Homo sapiens: one gene and its partners. The protein of the gene in region 3 interacts with the protein of the main gene of each other region in a pairwise test. Each region holds a gene or a part of one and is shown on either strand. Other genes may lie near its edges.

Region 1 (6,538 bases), on a different chromosome or scaffold from region 3:
ATCCAGAATGTCCTGCTCTCAGGGATCCTGAGGTCCCGTAGTGATCCTGCCTCCTGCCACACATCCTCTGGTTGCATACCTGTAGTGACAGGGAGTGCACCACCTCACGTTAGCTGTTTGTGGCTAAATTTAACCGGTCTTCCGATACCTAAGGAGGGCATTTCTCTTTCCGTGCATTTTAATGCTCCTGGCATTTTCATAATACTGAGGAGGAAACAGATATGAGGACACCCGGCTGCCATGTTGGGAGGCTGAGACATGCTCCCAACAGTCCTACGCACTTGCTTCTGTCTACTTGCCCCCACTATCGCCAGAGCAAATGCCATGCTGCCCTGTGGGATTATGGGGCAGACACGAGTCCCAGGCACCTGGGCCAGGGGCTGTTCCCGGAACTGCAGATAAGGGCTCCCACCTGGGCCTCTTATCTCAGGGGCGTTCCAGCCTGGTTACTCATTACCCTCCCCTTGGCGCGTCCACTTCCCTTCCCTGCTGGGGGCCTTGATGGGGGATCCTTGGCTTTCTAAACTCCCTGGAGGGGAGGGGACTGAAGCAGACAGAGCTGATGCTGTTGTCCCAGGTCCCCAAGCATCTTGCAGGACACCTTTTATCAAAACAGCCTTATTTAATCAGGCCCCAGAGGCAAGTCTGGGGTATACAGGCAGGTGGGATTCCTCCCCGGGAGGTCATACCTGACCTTTCTGGGGTAAGAGGGAGGCTGGGGCGGGGATGTTGGGGAAGCGGCCTGGGAGACGGCTGTCAGGGTTGCAGCAGGGACGCTCTGGGATGAGCTGGGGGCAGGCGGTCCCTTTGGGAGGTGAGACAATGGCCCTGTGTGGTACACTCCCTGCCCCCCACCCCCCACGGGCCGCTTGGTCTGGCACAAAGGACACACTGTGAGGCTGGGTCCTCCAGCTGGTGGGGGTGGCATGGAGTGGGGCCTAAGGAACAGCTATTAGGTCCAGAGTGGCAGTCGGGGGAGGTGGTCAGTTTGGCAGGGCCTCTGGGAGCATAAAAGTCCCAGAGCAAGCCTGGCCTTCCCTGTCCTCCCTCCCATGTCTGTCCTGCAGAGGTGGGGAGGGGTTTAGGGGCAACATGACTTCTCCCCTCTCCGGTCTGGTAGGAACCAGCTGTTAGGTGAGGGGCCGGCTCTGCACCTAGGTGGGGCCCTGGGACCGTGCCCCAGCCCCTCACACCTTGACCTCATCATCCTCCTCAGCATCCGCAAATTCAAAGGTGTTTGCTTGCACTGTGCTGGGCACTGGGGTCCTGCTGCCTGCCTGGGGCGCCCTCCACTCTTCGTCCAGGCTCTCCCAGGAGGCCCGGGCTTGGGGCAGCACCTCCACCCGCTCCTGCCGCGCATCCATCTCTGGGTAGTGGTGGCCGCCATCCCAGCCTGCTCCCCAGTGCCTGCCGAGGGCAGGGCCAGCAGGTCCTCGGGGACCCCCTCCCACTGGGCTGGACTTCACCTCAGCCACTGGGCCCAACCCAGCTGTTACCCCATTGGGACAGTGTCCATGGGGTGTGGAGCTTGCGGCAGGGGCTGGGGGATTTGCAGCAGGACCCGTGGGGGTTGCGGCAGGTGCTGAGGGGTTTGCAGCAGGCGCTGGGGGGTTTGCAGTAGTGGCTGGGGGGTTTGCAGCAGGACCCGTGGGGTTTGCAGTAGGGGCTGGGGGGTTTGCAGCGGGGGCTGGAGTCTCAGCTGCAGGGGCTTCTGGGAGGCTCATGACCCCTAGCAGCTCGCTGAGGAGTGAGGGCCCAAGGTCGAGGTCCAGGCGGAAGGACAAGAGAGAGTCAGAGCGGCGAAGCCCGGGCTCAGAGGGGAAGGAACCATCCCGGTCTCGGTCATGCGGCTTTTCCGAGCGGGGCAGGCGGGAGATGGTGCAGAACCCAGAGTCCAGGCCTAGAAGAGAAATGGGCAGTGGGCTCAGAGCTGGGGTCCCTCACCAGGAATTCAGGAGGGGAGACAGGACCAGTCCTGGCTTGCTGTGTGGCCTCTGGCTAGTCCCTCCCCTCTCTGGCCTCGGTTTCTCCCATCTTTCCAATAGAATACACTCCATGGTCACCTGTGTGATCTTCCTGTCTACCCCGAAAGCTGAAAATCATCATTATCCTCATTTCCATTATGCAGATGGGGAAAGTGAGGCTCAGTTTGGGATGGGGCGAAGGAGCTAGCCCAAGGCCATAGAAGTCTGACGAGGTGGAATCAAGTCTGGAGCTCAAATCTCCTCTCAGTCCCAACTGTGACCTCAGCCATGGCCACCGGCTCCCTGCCATGACGCTGGCCGATGGCTGCAGGTGAACCCATAGCACGTGAGCTGGTTTGTGGACACAGGATGGGACCAGCAATCAGGGTCTGACTGTATAGAAATGAAGGACAGACATGTCCAGCCCCTGCTTCCAGGACTACAGACCTGAGACAGAATCGGGTTTCTGTGGACCAGTCCTCAGTGCGGTTCTGAGCAGCCGCCTGGGGCAGGGGTGTTAGAGCCACTCCCGCAAGGCAGGGAGTGGCCACCAGGTGGCAGCAGGGGCCCATGGTTCTCAGGTGAGCTCTGACCGAACGGCCAAGGTGGCACTTCTGGCTGGGCAGGAAGGCCTGTGGCTTGCGGTTCCTGTGAGTGGTTTCCCAAATTTGTCGAGTTACAGGAAACCAAGTTCAGATAACAACAGCTCCAGTGTCCTGAGCACCTACTAAGTATCAGCCCCCCTGCGCCTCTCCTGGCACTGAATCTTAGCAATGACCCCGAGAGACTCATTATCCAGGCGAGGACTTGAACTTATAGAGGTCAACTGACTTCCTGAAATTCAGGCAGAACTGGATTGGAATCTAGAGCCCAGGCCCTTCACCTCTCCATGATATCATTCCGACATGAGGGGAAGGCTTTGGTTGAAGGGGGCAAGAATGGGTGGGTGACTGGTTCAGCTAAGGCCCAGAGAGGGGGATGTGCTTGCCCAGGTCACACAGCAAGTGAGGGGCAGCTAGAATTCAAACTCCACCTCCTCACTCTCAACCTCAGGTGTTTTGGGGAGTCAGCTTGTTCCCACCACTGCACCCCCTCCCCATCCATGATGTGGGGTCTGGGCCTGACCTCTGTGGTCACTTGGAGCTCACTTGGAGCTTGGAGGAGCCACTGAACCCCTCTGGGCCTCAGCCTCAGCCTCTGAAAAGTGGGCCAAGATGGCCCAGGCCCTCACCGTAGCTGGAGTGGCCGTCCGTGGAGCTGGTGGGGCTGCTGTCGAAGCTGAGCTTGCCAACCACGAGGCTGTCGTAGGCGGCCTGGTTGAGCTGGGGCAGGGAGATGGCGTTCTTGATGATGGGGGAGATGGCCGGTGGAGCCGGGGAGGGTGCAGGGGGAGATGCCATCCTCCGGGGGGGCGCCCCCACCCTCCGCACCAGCTGCAGCTTCTTGGCCAGGAAGCTGCGGGGTGAGCGATGGGTGCTCCCGGAGCTGCCACCGTGGTTGCTGAGGAAGGACGTGTCCCCGAAGACATCCCCGCCACGGCCCACATGCATGGTGTGGCGGAAGTCCCCGAGTGGGTGGCTGATCATGTCTGCAGTCAGCCGCCTCTTTCCCTGTGAACTGGACACCCAGCCCACAGGCGAGAGCTTGCCCAGGCTCATGGTGGCGGCGCCTCTGCCCCCCTGGGGGCCGGGCATCAGCTCTGGCTGCTCACAGCTGCTAGTCCATGCCTACCAGGGGCCGGGGGAGGGAGGTGGGCTGGGCTTGGGATGGCTGCTCAGCTCCTTTGCCCTGGCGGAAGCTGTAAATGGCACTCTCCTAAGGTGAGGTCCCCAAATGCAGAGGCTGTGGGGGGTTCATGGCTCGTCTCTCCCAGGGGCCCGGCTCCCAGCCCCTCAGAAGCAGCTATAGATGTTCAAGCGCAGAGAAAGCACCCCCGAGGTGGTCGGCAACTCTCCTGCCCAGAGGTGGAGACCTGGAAGGAAGACAGAATGGGCGGTGACGGCAGGCCCGCGACAGAGGAGGAAATCCGGGGTCCAAACATTAGCAGCTGAAGAGGATAGATGATCACACCCAACTACACGGATGGAGGCCTCCAACTGACGCGGGGCAGAAGCTAGGCACACGGGGACCCAAGTGAGTCTGTGTATAGAAAGTTCAAGAACACAGCCGGGTGCGGTGGCTCATGCTGGTAATCCCAGCACTTCGGGAGGTTGAGGTGGGTGGCTCACCTGAGGTCAGGAGTTCGAGACCAGCCTGGCCAACATAGAGAAACCCCGTCTCTACTAAAAATACAAAACTTAGCCGGACGTGGTGGTGCGCACCTGTAATCCCAGCTACCCAGGAAGCTGTGGCAGGAGAATCACTTGAACCTTGGAGGCAGAGGTTGCAGTGAGCCAAGATCACATCACGGCACTCCAGCCTCGGCAACAAGAGCAACATTCCGTCTCAAAAAAAAAAAAAAAAAAAAAAAAAAAAACAAGGAAGTTCAGTAACAGGCAAAACCAATTGATGCTATTAGCAATCAGAATGATGGCAGCCTCTGAGCAGGTACTGACTGAATAGGGGACAAATAATTCATTGAGCTATACACTTAAGCCATGTATCAGGAAAAAATAGAAGCACTCATTCACTCATTCTAAGTCTGAGCAACATAATGAGACCTGGTTTTTACAAAAAAATTTTAAAAAAATTAGTTGGGTGTGGTGGTGTATGCCTGTGGTCCTAGCTACTCAGGAGGCTAAGAAGGGAGGATCCTTTGAGCCTAGGAGGTCAAGGCTGCAATGAGCCATGATTGTGTCACTGCACTCCAGTCTGGGAGACAGAGCAAGACCTTGTCTCAAAAAAAAAAAAAAAAAAAAGGAAAAAAAAAAGAAAGCACTTATTCTGCAGGGCCCACTTATGAAGCACTTACTAAGTGCCAAGACCTCACCCGCCTCATCGTTTAAACCCATACAATACTCCTGAGGGGCTGGGCGCGGTGGCTCACGCCTGTATTCCCAGCACTTTGGGAGGCCAAGGCGGGTGGATCACGAGGTCAGGAATTAGAGACCAGCCTGGCCAACATGGTGAAACCCCGTCTCTACCAGAAATACAAAAAATTAGCTGGGCGTAGTGGCGGGCGCCTGTAATCCCAGCTACTCAGGAGCCTGAGGCAGGAGAATTGCTTGAACCCGGGAGGCAGAGGTTGCAGTGAGCCGAGATTGCGCCACTGCACTCCAGCCTGTGCGACAGAGCGAGACTCCGTCTCACAAACAACAACAACAACAAAAACATTACTCCTGAGGGCAGCATGAGATTAGAGAGGGGAAACTGAGGCACAAAGTGACGTAACTTGCCTGAGGCTACGTAGTAAGAAATGGTGAAACAGGCCCCACATCCCAGAGCCCTGGAGCCCCAGGCTACACTGCCTCCTGCTGAGTAACTGAGTAAGTCACCTCCCTTCTCTGTGCATTAAAATCTCTGCCACGCAGCGAAGCCAGGAGGGAGCAGACACCTCACCAAAGCTTTGTGAAGCTGGGTAAACAGCCAGAGCAGAGGTTCCTCTGAACCATCCACCTTCAAGGAGCTTCCTGGAATAAGGATCCTGTGGTCAAAAGTGGCTTTTTCCAGCTGCCTCCTCCATGCGTGAGCATATTCAAGTCTCTGAGAAGGCCCGCAGGAAAAGACTTTATCACAGTTTGTCAAACTGACGTAGGAGCCTTGCTGTCAGGGAGCAAGCTTTGGAAAAAGCTCAGCTGGTGCCAAAAGCTATTTCTTGTGCATCTCTCCTTCCTGATTCCCCACCCCCACCATACACACACACACATCCTCCCCTGCTCCAGCTTCTCTAAGCATCTCTTGTTCTGACCCCTTTCCTTCTAGTGTCATACAAAGTCCAGGCTAGAGCGCACCTGTGATCCTATGCTTTTCCTGTGGCCCACTGAGGGCAAAGCTGGCTAGAGGTCAGATCCACAGAGCTAGTTGAGACTTGAACTCAGAGCCTCTGACTCACATAAGCCCTTGACTGGCTTGTGGAGCCCAGTCTCGCCTCCCGAGATCGGCAATGCACTTGGAGGGTGGGGAGGCCGCCTGGATTTTCCTGCCTTTCTCCCTTGGGCATCTAGCTTGGGCTCTGCACTTAACAAGTGCCAAATCAATGCCAGCTGAATCACAGATCTCCATGATAACCTGCATGCCAAAACATCACCCTGGCCCCTTCTGAGAGTGGGAGGGCAGGCTGGGCTCTGTGTCCTCACAATGTGACCTTGGGCAAGTCACTTACCTACACAGACCTGGGACCTCAGCTGATAAAAGTCAATAATGATCCTTAAGAACACCTATGTCTGCGGCTCAGCCTTCTTCCTTTTTTAAAACCATTGCTGCCACCTCCAAGCATAGAAATCTCAATACTGCCCTTCTAATGTTATTTGAAATTCAAAATAGGTTAAATAACAAGATAAGAACAAAGAAGCCAATAGGACAAAGCTTGCTTTGTTTTCTGACTACATTCTCTTCCCTTCCCACCATCTGATCCTCCCCCAACCCTAACTCCTCCCCCTCGTGGGGGGGAACTTCTGAATCATCTTCTTCCCTCC
Region 2 (7,112 bases), about 95 Mb from region 3:
CATATAGTTCACATTTTATCCTTCTTTTCTTGATTACAGACTTAACAATGAAAATTATTCACACAAAATATGCACTTAATCAAGTTAAAAATGTGCATGAGTCAGTACAAATTCACTCCCACTTCCGAAAATATCTCTCAAAAGAGTACTCTCGAAAGTAGGTCATCTTCATATATGAAAGGCTGCAAATTATTACAACTTTTACTCAACACTACAGATATATTTTATTCCTAATAGCAGCAAAAGAATTGGCTGTTGATGTACAAAGCTATTCAAAATAGTTGGTAACTTAAAGAAATCCACAGATAACCAGTCATTCAGAACATGGAACAAAAACAATGAAAGTTCTGTAAGAGTTAGTGCTTAAGGTACAGTAATATATAAAATCTCTTACAATCTTTTGTGAGGAATAATATCTTAATCTATCTATCTCTACATATTATAGACTAGTATATCTAGATACCAATTATGCAAATCACAACACACTACAAGTCATTCCTTCCCTAAAAACAAAACAAAACAAAACAAAAAACAAAAAACAAACAAAAACCTCTGTTAGACTCAATTATACAGATATTATTCTAACTACTTTAGGCAAAATAAATGCTATCTCTCATTTTACTATAATTATACAACTATCATTGCAAAAATGTAGACAGCCGTGTATCTGAAAATGTTAGAATAAGTTGTGTCTGAATGGATAGAACAGGCACTAATGCTATACAGAAATCTTTACTATGCATTTAAGTACTGAAATTTATCCGAGTTCTGATCATAAATGTTTGAGTATTCTGAGGTAATCTAGAAATGGAAAAATTAATTGTCTCTTAGATACGAAATGGAGAGCCCAAGATTAAGTTGTATGCTGGCAATGCATAGAATTTAGGAAGACCGTTCAAGGCAGTTAATCAAATCCCTGACTGAAGTCATCATCAGAGAACCAGACAGGGATTAGGAAACTTGGAGCAGAGACAGCAGGCTGCTAAGTTTTCCACCCAACTGACCTTCCTCCCTGGGATAAGTTTTGACAGAGAATACCAACTGACAATGCACTGTTACACTTTGGCAATTACACTATCCTCTCAATTAAGATGTTTTAAAATAATAAGCTGGCCCATTAACACTATTACTAACCTAAACACACATACGCATGCACACAAACACAATGTGTCAGTTCTGTAATCCAACCTGGTTTGTGTTTGATTAAATCAGAAAACATTTCAGCCATTAGATTGATGCTCTCAAACCAACTGGTTAACACTGTTTCCCAAATGAAGGATTTTTGGAGTGAGGAGGTTTCTCCTGCTCTTGATATTTATTTATTTCCATTTGAAGGGAATGCTGTTAGTGAAACATTACTGCTTCTCCCCACTGTCTCACTCACTGCTACCAGCCTGGTGACTCTGGAAAGGAGGAACTGATCATACTAGAGAGAAAGCTGGGCTGCAGGGTGCACAGTTTCCACTCTGCTCCTCAAGGGTCTAGTGTTCTCCAGGCTTGGGGGATGGGCGTGAAAGGCGAATTAAATCTCTTCCATTCTAGGGCTCAGAATCAAGCTTATTTGTCTGCAGATACAAGCCATGCACGTCCTCCAACTCAGCTCTGACCATCTGTAAAGATGGCATTTTGGTTTTCCACTGGCTTGCCCTTTATTCTTTCCAATTAGATCAGAACTTGGGAAAAGAAAAATGTCATGGATCAAGTCGGCCAATGGAGGAACATGTTATGGAAAGCAGGAATACCGGTCAAGTAGAAAAGACACGCACATCCAGATTTTGTTTTTGTTTACTGTAAACAAAGCTATAAGCTAGAGTGAAGATATGTCACAGTCTCCAGTGACCTCCTACATGTAAACTGAAACAGGGCTACCTTCATCTGGCTATGTGAATCCCATTTGAACAGCACTCCCATATAAGTGATAATAACAATAAAATATCTCAGCCAATTTAATTTTTTATGCATCTTAATTGTAAATCTCACCTGAATCTTGTACTATCTTGTCTTCTACTATGCAATAAAAGAGACAACCATAATATGGCTATAAAACATATTTGTTCATGAAGATTTTAAGCTAATTTTAAACTTTAATTAAGATAAGAGTACTCTATTTACCAAGGCGATAAAATTTATTATAGTTCCTTGTTATCACTTGTAATTGATCCTATGAGACACTCAAAAAACTTCTTCCTTTGAAAGAAAACGTGTTTCGTATGTACTTACTATATTCTGATTTTCAAATAATGACTTAGGAGCAGCTTGAGCTTTACATGTCTTAAGATAGGTCTGCCAATTGAATTCTTCTTCTTTATACCCTAGAGTAAGCACATATGAACAGATTGATTCAAATACCACAATATTTTACACTTAGTTTTCCAGTCCCACTTTTATCTCTAACATGCCAAAATCAATCAAATGACTTTTTAAATAAACAAAATTTAACTCATAATTCATAACTATGCATATTTAGACTATGTTTATTTTCAACAAACTGTATTATTATTTTCCAATTCTGAATGAATGGTAATGGATATAAAGAAAAGGAATAAGGAAACAAATATGTATTATACCCAGGACACTTATTATCAGGGTATTTGTACCAGTATTTAGGTAGAATTCCTCAGCGGTATAGATACTGAACTACAATAGTCAAAATTCTTTATTTTTCTCTCACCTAGTCTATTTTGGGAAGACTAACTTATAGGAACAAGTGGAAAGGTGGAAATAATAGAAATGAAACAGGTAAAATCTTTTTGGCCTATCACTTCAAGAAGGACAATTTAAGGTTTATGAAGTAAGGATGCTGGCAAATTACAATAAGGGAAATGTCCTCCCCTTAATTTTTACAATTTCATTGAAGTTAACATTTCCTTTAAAAAGGAAATTGAGCATCTTATTTTATCTGCGAATATGCTTTATTTTACATTCATTAAAGTCCAGAAAGCAGCATGAAAAAACCAGCTAATAATTTACCATATATAAGAGATCAATTCGTGAAAAGGCTTACAGATTTTCTTTTTCACCCTCACTTTTTCTATGCTATTTTGTTGAATCCTTCAGCTATCTGAAAATACCACTCTGCCATTATTTTTTCACTTAAAACAAAGGGATGGCTAATGCATTAAAGCCCTGAGACAGGCCAAAAATATCAACCCAGTAACCTGAATTTTTGACATAAACAAAAATCAATGTAATGATTGAAATAGAAGGGAATAAGATATTACTAAATATGGCCGGGCACGGTGGCTTACACCTGTAATCCCAGCACTTTGGGAGGCCAAGGTGGGCAGATCACTTGAGGCCAGAAGTTTGAGACCAGCCTGGCCAACATGGTGAAGCTCTGTCTCTAATAAAAACACAAAAATCAGCCAGGCATGGTGGCAGGCACCTGTAATCCCAGCTATTCGGGAGGCTGAGGTAGGAGAATCACTTGAACCTGCTAGGCAGTGGCTGCAGTGAGCCAATATCACACCACTGCACTGCAACCTGGGCGACACAGCAAGACTCCGTCTCAAAAAAAAATTAGGGAATACTTTAGGCAGACAGTGAAAAAGACGATATCTGTTATTCTTGAACTTTGATATAAACATGAAATAGGAAAATCACTGGGGGACTATAATATAAAGTACTCAAATATAAGAAAAGTAATTGCTATGAGTTCAACCCCCCACCTAAGCCAATTTTTAGTGTTACAGTCTTCTTGCCAATCTCCTAAATATTAAGATCTATACGGTCAAGCATAATTTCTCAGGATTTTCTATATAATGAAAAACTGATTTGAAAAATTAGTTTAAACCAGTTAACACTAAACTTAGTTATATAAACTAATTTAAACTAATTTTTCAAATCAGTTTTTTCAAAGATGTATGTATTTAATAATAGAAATTTGCAGGTAAACATTATTTGTAGTCAAAGTTGAGTATCATGCAAATGTTATTTTACATGAAAATAAGCATATGAACATACTTTATTTTCCTAGGCTGGATTCTGCTTTTATTTCTTTAACTTTAATAAACATGGTTTCATCATAAACAATAAGGTTAAATTTGTGCCTATCTGAATTTTCATAAAGTCTGAATTCTTAACAATTCTAATGTAGCATGTAAGAAAATGAGTTTTTACTGAATTTAAAATATCAAACAAAAAGTGACAAAACCTTTTGGAGGATGGAGTTTGTGGCCGGTTTTCTCACACCACCCAACTGGGTGGATATCCAGAGCGTCTGCATTCACCCAGAAGTCATAGCAATCAGAATACCCATCAAAGTGAAGCTTTATCCGGTATCCACAAACCTGAAACAGGTAAAATAGGTTGAATTATTTTTTTTAACTCAGAATATTCATATATATATATATATACACAAAAATAAACATGGACACCAGGCATGATATAGTCTTAATGTTAATCAAACCACCCACATTAACAGTAATAAAACAACTAAACAAATAACCAGAATCTAAAGACAAAAGCTATTAAAGTGGGAAGAGCTGAGCTGTGGCATTCTGGCAACATTCTCAGTTACATTACAACCACACGGATAGGGGGCAAAGCATAATATCCCACAATTGCAGGTCCTTTCTCCACTCCCTATGTTGTACCAAGATGTGTCCCCAGGGTAAGCTGGAAGGCACACCAGCACAGCACACTCAGCTCTAGCATGGCCCCAGAGTGGACAGTCTGCCCTGCACTGAAGGCTGCAGACCACAGCTGGTGCATATGCACAGAAGTCAAGCTTTTTTTCTCCACCAAAGCTGGGTTGGAAGAAAGAAAGAAAAGCGTCTCTCCTAGTTTATTACTTGGATGAGACAGGCTCCTAAGAATGCTAGTAAGAATGTACTCTGTATAACACATGCCATACATATGCCTACAGGGCCCCACTTAGAGACATTCTGATTTAGAAGGTCATATAGGCTTACGAGACCTGAGTTGGATCATACCCTGCCCTGGATTCTTAGAGAGAGGGTTCAGCCCCTGAGACTTCTTCCCACTAACACAAGAAGATGTGTTCAAGTAGAAACACGTATCACGCCAGACCTCTACCCGCTCCAGGAGTGTCTGTCCTGCAGAACCCTGAATGATGAACTTAGACCAGAGTGCAGAGCCAGGGCAATTAATCCTCAAATAGTGAGGTAGCTGTACAGTTACTGTCATGGAAAGTTCTCTAAAACATATAGTTAAAATTCAAGTGGTAGAACACATAACACAGAATGAGTTAAGTTTATGAGAAAATTAGACATGTGGGGGTCCACATGTATTTATGGGTATATGATTATGTATACATATGTGTATTATGTGTATATACATAAGTATATGCATTTATATACATACATTAATATACACACATATGCATACATATGTAAACACATAGTAAAAAGAAGTCCGGAGGTATATTTGCCAAAATGTTAATAATGATTTCTTCTAGGAAGTGGTAGTGAAAAGGAAGGGGCAAAATGGGAATGATGGACTTTTCATATTTTCTTTTATGTATCAGCATTTTTTCAATTAGAATGTATTGATATACCACATACATCAAATTTACAACTAAGCTGACTCCCCCCAGAGAGAACAGAGTCTCTCCATACAGCTGAGACTGGAATCCCTGGGAAATACAATCTCTCAGGTAAAGCAGGAGCTACCCCCACTCCCTACAGCCACCCCATGCAAAGAAGGCTGCTTCTCTCCTCTCTCTCACAGTCAGCTATATCTGGCCGATCCTAAGAGCTCAGCCCTATAGTAATTTACAGCCTCTAGTTCCTTGTGGGCACACCGTTCTGAGCTTCTGCTCCCTTGAGCCAAGCTCTCTCTGTTCTCCCCATAGTCTCTATCTCAGGCTCACCGGAAAGCTATGCTTTGAGAAACAATCTCCTACATCCTCACCCTCCTTGCCCACAGTCATACCTAGCTCGTCCTTCTCAAGCCTTTCCCCAAGGGTGCTCATGTTCCCAACTCTACCTCCCATAGACACAGGACGGGTTGCTGCCTCCCACCACACCATGGATCCTAGGCCAGTTCTCCCCTGCCGAGGCTCGAGCCATATGGCTGAAGCAACTCTCCTCCTCTTCTTCCCCCATGCTAACCACCCAAACACTTAGCCCTGGCTTATTCTCTTCCTTTCCATCTGAGTACTTTCGTCATCCATATGGATGACTTATCCAATACCCTGGCATTTTGACTCCCTTCCTCTCTACTTCAAGCCCTCACTCCCATGAATCTAGTCCCCAACAAGAACTGCTCTGCTTCTTAGTATTAAATTTAAAAATCCAACCCTGGGACACATACTCCTATTCCAGTCTGCAAACCCAGTTACCCCCAGATGCCTCTTCCTCAATCTCAACAGAAACTCTAGTCTCACACTGATCCTTTTACTTCCTCCCTAGCAGCTCTCCTCACCCCAAGCCTTCCTTTCCTAGCAATCATTTAAAAAACATTTTCTTGCCAACATTTTAAAATTTCTGCCCTGATATCCTTTGCAAAATATTTGCCTGGTGACATTCTATCATTTCAGGTATCCATCTTGTCTCCACCTAACCAAGTCTAGTAAATGGTGATGGGAAGGAAAAAATGACATACCGCCAGTCTTCATTATTCACATACTGTATTCCACGTTTGTGAAGTCATCTACTTGCTACAATTTATTTGTAACCCCAAAATAATACTCGCAGTGTTCGTGGACATGCACAGACTGACAACACTTTTGAGTCACTCAACATGCATGTTCCCAGCTGAAGTCAATCAAGAAGGAGCTTTACCTTCCTGTTTCAGTTCTCGTACTGGGAATAAGTGTCTTTTGTGTGGTCCATTTAGTGCCACATATTCTACATTTTTGTGCTTTTCTTGGGTGATGTTACTGTTTAAAATGGCCCCTGACATAGTGCTGAGGTGTTGTTTAGTGTCCCTAAGTGCCAAAAGGTTGTGATGTTGCCTTACAGAGAAGATACTTGTGCTAGATAAGCTTCATCAGGCAGGAGTGATAGTGCTCTTACTTGTGAGTTCAATTTTTAATGAATGAACGATATACATTAAATGAGGTGTCTTTAAACAGAAACACACATAAAACAAGGTTACACACTGATCAGTAGACAAAAATGTGACCAGAGGCTCACAGGAAGCTAACC
Region 3 (7,112 bases):
CCTTGGGAATGATGTGTGTCCTACTGAACACACCCTCTTACCCAGGGGAGCAGTTTTGATTTTAGAACTAGTGGAGGATCAGCTGATAATTTGGCCTCCTTCCCCACTGACTATCAGGCAGTGGGGTGAAGGGGTATGTAGATGGAGCAGTGTGTCTCTGGTTTGATGAGGATCTTTGGGTGGCACCAGGCCTACCACTTCCTCCTTGACTGGCAGGAGCTGGGGGAAGGGAGGGAGGGTAGACAGGGGCCTTCCAGTCTCCTGCACCTCCAGCTGATATTCAGGGCAGTCCTGGAGCCCAGAGTGAGACTCTTGCCCACTGAGAATCAATGAGCTTCAGGTTTTGCCTCCTCTGGAGAGGGACAACCACCTTCTCCTTAGTGGAGGAAAAGTTAAGAACAGCTCCAGTCCAAAAACCTGCTGGCTGGCTAGGATCATTAGCTTTGTCCTGACCCCTGTGTGCTACTGGTCTCCCCAGGCTAGGATTTGTGGGTAGGGAGGGGAGGATGATTTAATGATGTGCAGAGCACTTGACTCAGAACCACGCAGGCTTGGATCCGTACTGCTCCCCATCTGGGTGACTTTAAGCAAGTCACTGTCCATCTTCAGTTTCTCATCTATAAACCAGGGGGTTGATCACCAAGCTGTCCTACAAAACTAAAGAATAAATTCTGTACCTCAAGTAGGTAAAATTGGTCTATGATGCAGCCTCTCCTTTCCCTTAACTGGGCCTCTGTCTCCTTTGATGCCCACACCCAACCCCTACAGCCCCTTCTTGCTCTCAGCAGGTGACACAGCTAATCCAAAGATTCCCACCTTTTAAAATTTCCAGTGTTCCTCCATGATAGTAGTTATGCTTTTCTAGTAACCCACTAGAATACATTTGGTAACTCTTAAAAGGAGCTGTGTCTTTTTTTTTTTTTTTTTAAGACAGAGTCTTGCTCTGTCACCCAGGTTGGAGTATAGTGGTGCAATCTCAGCTCACTGCAACCTCCACCTCCCAGGTTCAAGTGATTCTCCTGCCTCAGCCTCCCAAGTAGCTGGAATCACAGGTGCCCACCACCACGCCCAGCTAATTTTTGTATTTTTAGTAGAGCCGGGGTTTTGCCATGTTGGCCAGGCTGGTCTTGAACTCCTGACCTCAGGTGATCCACCTGCCTTGGCCTCCCAAAGTGCTGGGATTACAGGCGTGAGCTACTGCACCTGGCTGGATCTGTGTCTTTTAAAAGGATCACTTGGAACCTAGATTCATTTAAAGACCTTGCTGGGCAAGGTGGCTCACATCTGTAATCCCAGCACTTTGGGAGGCCATGGCAAGAGAATCACTTGAGTCCAGGAGTTTGAGACCAGCCCTGGCAGCATAGCAAGACCCCAACTCTACAAAAAATGAAAAAAATTAGGCATGATGGCTCCTGCCTATAGTTCCTGCTACTCTGGAGGCTGAGGTGGAAGGATCGCTTGAGCCCGAGAGGTCAAGGCTTCAGTGAGCCATGGTTATACCACTGCATTCCAGCCTGGGCAATAGAGTGAGATTCTTTCTTAAAAAAAAAAAGTCAATTTAGGAGAGAATTCTTTCTGAAATCATTGCTGGGTGCTTTTATGGATTCCCAAACCCTGGGGATCCTGAAGGCTGGAAACTACAGAATCAGTTCTTGCTGACTGTTGCCAACATGGACCTGACACCCACACTTGAGTTTTTAGGATCCCCAATCCCCACACTTGAGTTTTAGAGGATCCCCCAAGTCCTGAGAGGAGAACTACTCCCCTACATGCCTCCAGAGGAAAGAGTGAATAGATGAAGCATCTCAAAGGTCAGTGACTGCCAACTCAGAGGCCAGAGGCTCCCTGGGTTTGTGGAGACTGTGGGAGTCCTCTCTGAGGAAACCCAAATGGCAACTTGTGAAAAATACACCTGGACCCCACCCCTGGAAACTCTGAGTCAGTAGGTCTGGGCTGGGCGGGCATGTTTCAGTTTCACCAGTTCTCTGGGTGATTGTGGTGCTCAGCCAGGGCCAGTGCACTGTAGAGATCAAGAGCAGGGCTTTGGAGTCAGACCTTGGGCAAGACGCTTCCTCTCTCTGAGCCTTGATTTCCTCATCTCTAAAATGAGGATAATGAGAGTCCCCTGATCCAGGGCTGAGGACTGATGGAGATCTGCAAGTGAGCTCCTGCTCACAACTCCTCTGTCACTGCCATTTCCTTTGCAGCATGACCCCTCCCCTAGTCACACCCTCTCTCCACCCCCAACCCCTACCGCACCCAGGCACAGGAAGCTGACAGTCTGAGGTCGGCCCAGCTCTCTGGAGAGAGGCCCTGAGTGTCTGGGCATTTAATTCTTCCTTGTCCTACTATCTGACAGCACGCGGGGGTCAGAGTCTCTGCCCTGGGTTCTTCAGGATCCAATGGCAAAAGTGCAGGTGAGGTGCAGGTCTTAGGGACAGTACAGGGCGACAGAACTAAGCTCAAATAACTGTGCTGTTATGTGGCAGGTTCTGTCCTGGGTCGGGGAGGGCATTCATAGGTCCTCTCCTAAGACTCCCTTTTTAGAGAGATGAAAACTGAAGCCCAGTAAGGTTAATATGCTCACTGGGATTTAGTCAATCTCTGTCTGGCTTTTGTATTTTGTCTGCTTCTTCCCATGAAGTGTTTAAGTTCATTCAAGAGATACTTAATGAGCATCCATTAGGTGCCAGGCCCCGTGATACCACAGTGAAAAAAACGCAAATGTTTCTACCCTTGTGGTGCTGACATTCTAGTCAGAGGAGGCAGATAATAAACTAAATGAAATGTACAATATGATGAAAGATGATACATGACATGGAAGAAAATAAAGCAGAAATGGGTAGGGATCATGGAGGTCAGGCAGGATTGGGTTACAGGTTTAAATAAGGTGATCAGGCCGGGCAGGGTAGCTCACACCTGTAATCTCAGCACTTTGGGAGGCTGAGGCGGGTGGATCGCTTCAGCCCAGGAATTCAAGACCAACCTGGGCAACATAGTGAAAGCCCGTCCCTACAAAAGATAGAAAAATTAGGCCCAGCACGGTGGCTCTTGCCTGTAATCCCAGCACTTTGGGAGGCCGAGGCGGGTGGATCACCTAAGTCAGGGGTTCGAGACCAGCCTGGCCAACATGTTGAAACCCCATCTCTACTAAAAATACAAAAATTAGCTGGATGTTGGTGGCAGGCACCTGTAATCCCAGCTACTCAGGAGGCTGAGGCAGGAGAATTGCTTGAACCCGGGAGGCAGAGGTTACAGGGAACTGAGATCACACCATTGCACTCCAGCCTGGGCACAAGAGCAAAACTACATTGCAAAAAAAAGAAAACACACACACACATATACACACAAAAATTAGCCGGGTGTGATGGCGCACGCCTACAGTTCCAGCTACTCAGGAGGCTGATATGGGAAGATCACCTGAGCCAGGGCGGTCGAGGCTGCAGTGAGCTGTGATTGTGCCACTACACTTCAGCCTGGGCAACAGAGTGAGACCCAGTCTCAAAAGATAAGGTGATCAGAGGATATTCCACCTGGTCAGGGAATATATATTCCCTGAGAAGGTGTCATCTAAGTAAAAACAGGGAGGAGGAAAGGGTTTGAGCCATGCAGTGACCTGGAGAGAAATATTCCAGGCTGCAGGAACAGTAAGTGCAAAGGCCCTTGGGCAAGAATATGCCTGACCTGCTGGAGGAACATTAAGAAGGCAGAATGGCTGGAGGCAAGTAAACAAGAGGGATGAGGTCAGAGAAGGTGCAGCAGGCCAGGTCACATGGGGCCTGGAGGCCTGTGGAAGGACTCGAACTTTTACTCTGAAAATTATGGGAAACCATTGGAGCATTTGAGTTAGACTTTAGGAGTCAGTCAGAAACATTCAGTGAATGGGGGACATTATACTATCTTTGGAGTCAAGGTTGAGATTAGAGTCATTGCTGCCCTCAAGGAATGTAGAACACCCAGAAATGCTCACACAAACAGTGAACAGCAAAAGAATATTATTATAGAGCAACTTAATAGGGCAAATTAATAACTGGGTTAATGGCACCCTTTTTCATCCCTATTGTTTTAAATTTTATCCTAAAGACAATATATTCTCCTGGTTTAAAAAAAGAAAACACACAGAAGAATATAATGTTAATGAAGAAATTCGGGGCTGCGCTGTGGTAGCTCATACTTGTAATCCCAACACTTTAGGAGGCCGAGGCAGGAGGATCTCTTGAGCCCAGGAGGGCTCTTCCTGCCTCGGCCTCCTAAAGCATTGGGATTACAGGTATGAGCCACCATGGCCTGGGCAATATAATGGGAACTCATCTCTATGAAAAAAAAGAATTTTTTTTTTTTTTTTCCAGACAGGGTCTGGATCTGTCACTCAGGCTGGAGTTCAGTGGCACGATCTCAGCTCACTGCAGCCTTGACTTCCTGGGCTCAAGCAATTCTCCCACCTCAGCCTCCTGAGTAGCTGGGACTACAGGAGTGTGCCGCCACACCCGGCTAATTTTGGTATTACAAAAAAATTTTTTAACTTAGCTGAGCATGGTGACACATGCCTGTAGTCCCAATTACTCGGGAGGTTGAAGTGGGAGGATCGCTTGAGCCTGGGAGGCGGAAGCTGCAGTGAGCAGAAATCGTGACACTGCACCCCAGCTTAGGCAACAGAGTGAGACCCCGTCTCTAAATAAATAAACAAAAATAAAAATGAATTTATTATAAAATTAAAACATGTTAGTGGTAATTTTTTTTTTGTGGGGGTGTGTGTGTGTATGTGTGTGTGTGACAGAGTCTCACTCTGCCACCCAGGCTGGAGTGCAGTGGCACTATCCTTCCTGGCTCACCTCAACCGCCACCTCCCAGGTTCAAGCAATTCTCCTGCCTCAGCCTCCCTGTAACTGGGATTACAGCCGCCTGCCATCACACCCAGCTAATTTTTGTATTTTTAGTAGAGATGAGGTTTCGCCATGCTGGCCAGGCTGGTGTTGAACTCCTGACCTCAAGTGATCCGCCCACCTGGGCCTCCCAAAGTGCTGGGATTACAGGTGTGAACCACTGCGCCTGGCCAAATTTGTTTTTTTGTTTTTGTTTTTGTTTTAATTTTTAGATGGAGTTTCACTCTTGTTGCCCAGGCTGGGGTGCAATGGCACAATCTCGGCTCACTGCAACCTCTGCCTCCTGGGTTCAACTGATTCTCCTGCCTCAGCCTCCCAAGTAGCTGGGATTATAGGCGCCTGCCACAATGCCTGGCTAATTTTTAGTATTTTTAGTAGAGACAGGGTTTCAACATGTTGGTCAGGTGGGTCTCGAACTCCTGACCTCAGGTGATCCACCTGCCTCGGCCTCCCAAAGTGCTGGGATTACAGGCGTGAGCCCCTGCACCCGGCCCAAAAAAATTTTGAAGTAAAGAAGAATATAATGTTGGCCGGGCGCGGTGGCTCATGCCTGTAACCCCAGCACTTTGGGAGGCCGAGGCGGGCGGAACACCTGAGGTCAGGAGTTTGAGACCAGCCTGGTCAACATGGCAAAACCCCGTCTCTACTAAAAATACAAAAATTAGCCAGGCATGGTGGCGGGCGCCTGTAATCTCAGCTCTTCGGGAAGCCGAGGAAGGAGAAGCACCTGAACCCGAGAGGCAGAGGTTGCGGTGAGCCGAGATCACGCCATTGCACTCCAGCCTGGGCAACAAGAGTGAAATTCTGTCTTAAAAAAAAAAAAAAGATGAAAGTTTCTCCCCTCACTCTGGAGAGGTGATCACTGTTAACAGTTTGTGAGTCTTCTAGATTCTTTCTGTATACAAATAAACAGGTTGAACCATATGAAATTTCTGACACTTGATTGTTTTGACCTACTGAAATACTAGTTTCATATAATTCGACCTAATCTTTGCACATGTATTTGACAAACATTTCATTCTGTAGCTTGCTTTTTTTACATGCCAGTGTAGTATGCATATCTTTCAATGTCTGTTCATATAAACATAACAAAGATCACCCACAACTTTTATTAAGCAGTGCACTATGCACCAGGTACTCTTCACTCAAAACAGCCTTTGGAGCAGACCCTATCATTATCCTCACAGAGGAGGAGACTAAGGTGTTGGAGAATTAAACATTTGCCCATGAGCACACAAGTGGGAAAAGTGAAATCTTTCCAGCTACATACAGTGGTTCCTGACATGGTATACCTGTTTCCTACTGGAAGAGCCTCAGTTTGTCTCCATTTTTTCATATTATAAACAATGCTTAATGAGCATTCTTGTATCTCTCCCATGAGTGTCTGTAGGTTGGATGATTAGAAATGCTGGGGTGGCCGGGCGCAGTGGCTCACGCCCTGTAATCCCAGCATTTTGGGAGGCCGAGGCGGGCAGATCTCCTGAGGTCAGGAGTTTGAGACCAGCCTGGCCAACATAGCGAAATTCCATCTCTACTAAAAATACAAAAATTAGCCGAGCATAGTGGCACGCGTCAGCAATCCCAGCTACTCAGGAGGCTGAGGCAGGAGAATCACGTGAACCTGGGAGGCGGAGGTTGCAGTGAGCCAACACCGCGCCACTGCGCTCTAGCCTGGGCGGCAGATTTGGAACGCGTCTCAAAAAAAGATAAGGACACGGGTAGTTTGAAAAGAGGCCAAGAGACAGCAGATGAGAATATATAAAACTTGAACACTTGTCACTTCAGAAGTGGTCAGTGGATGTTGGCATTATTCTCTTGAGGTGGTCACCCTGGGTTTTAAGTGCTAGGCATTGAGCCAGTGGCACCCCTTAGAGTGGGGATTGGTATTCTATGACCACAGATGTGTTAGGCAAGACTTTCCTGGAATTAGTGATAAAACCAAACTCAAATGGCTTAAGGGAGAGGGGATTTATTGGCTCACATAACCAAAAACTCCAGGGATAACTGCCCAGAGGGAAATGAGGGAAAAAAAGGAAATACTCCCTTCCTGGGATCTCCCACTTCCCAGTTTGCCAAGGAAAACTGAGCCCCAGGAGGACACTGAGGCAAAGTCTCAATACTTTCTCCCCCTCCTCTCTGAAAAGAGAATAAAATGAAGGCTTGGCACACACACCATCTCCGAGACAGTGCTAGCTCCTGCCTCCTAGGAACTGATTCCAAGGTGAACTG

The links.
Region 1: the proteins of DEF6 (region 3) and CDC42EP1 interact in binary tests that used the Homo sapiens proteins (3 or more experiments, as listed by UniProt).
Region 2: the proteins of DEF6 (region 3) and L3MBTL3 interact in binary tests that used the Homo sapiens proteins (3 or more experiments, as listed by UniProt).

Annotation. Positions count from the first base shown.
Region 1 is NC_000022.11:37,563,470-37,570,007, reverse strand, and holds the end of CDC42EP1 (cdc42 effector protein 1), read right to left. Parts: intron 3,937-6,538; 5' UTR 3,659-3,936; coding exon 3,196-3,658; intron 1,901-3,195; coding exon 1,188-1,900; 3' UTR 603-1,187; downstream 1-602. UniProt on the Homo sapiens protein: Probably involved in the organization of the actin cytoskeleton. Induced membrane extensions in fibroblasts.
Region 2 is NC_000006.12:130,063,530-130,070,641, reverse strand, and holds part of L3MBTL3 (lethal(3)malignant brain tumor-like protein 3), read right to left. Parts: intron 4,290-7,112; coding exon 4,154-4,289; intron 2,313-4,153; coding exon 2,221-2,312; intron 1-2,220. UniProt on the Homo sapiens protein: Is a negative regulator of Notch target genes expression, required for RBPJ-mediated transcriptional repression. It recruits KDM1A to Notch-responsive elements and promotes KDM1A-mediated H3K4me demethylation.
Region 3 is NC_000006.12:35,300,818-35,307,929, forward strand, and holds part of DEF6 (differentially expressed in FDCP 6 homolog), read left to right. Parts: intron 1-7,112.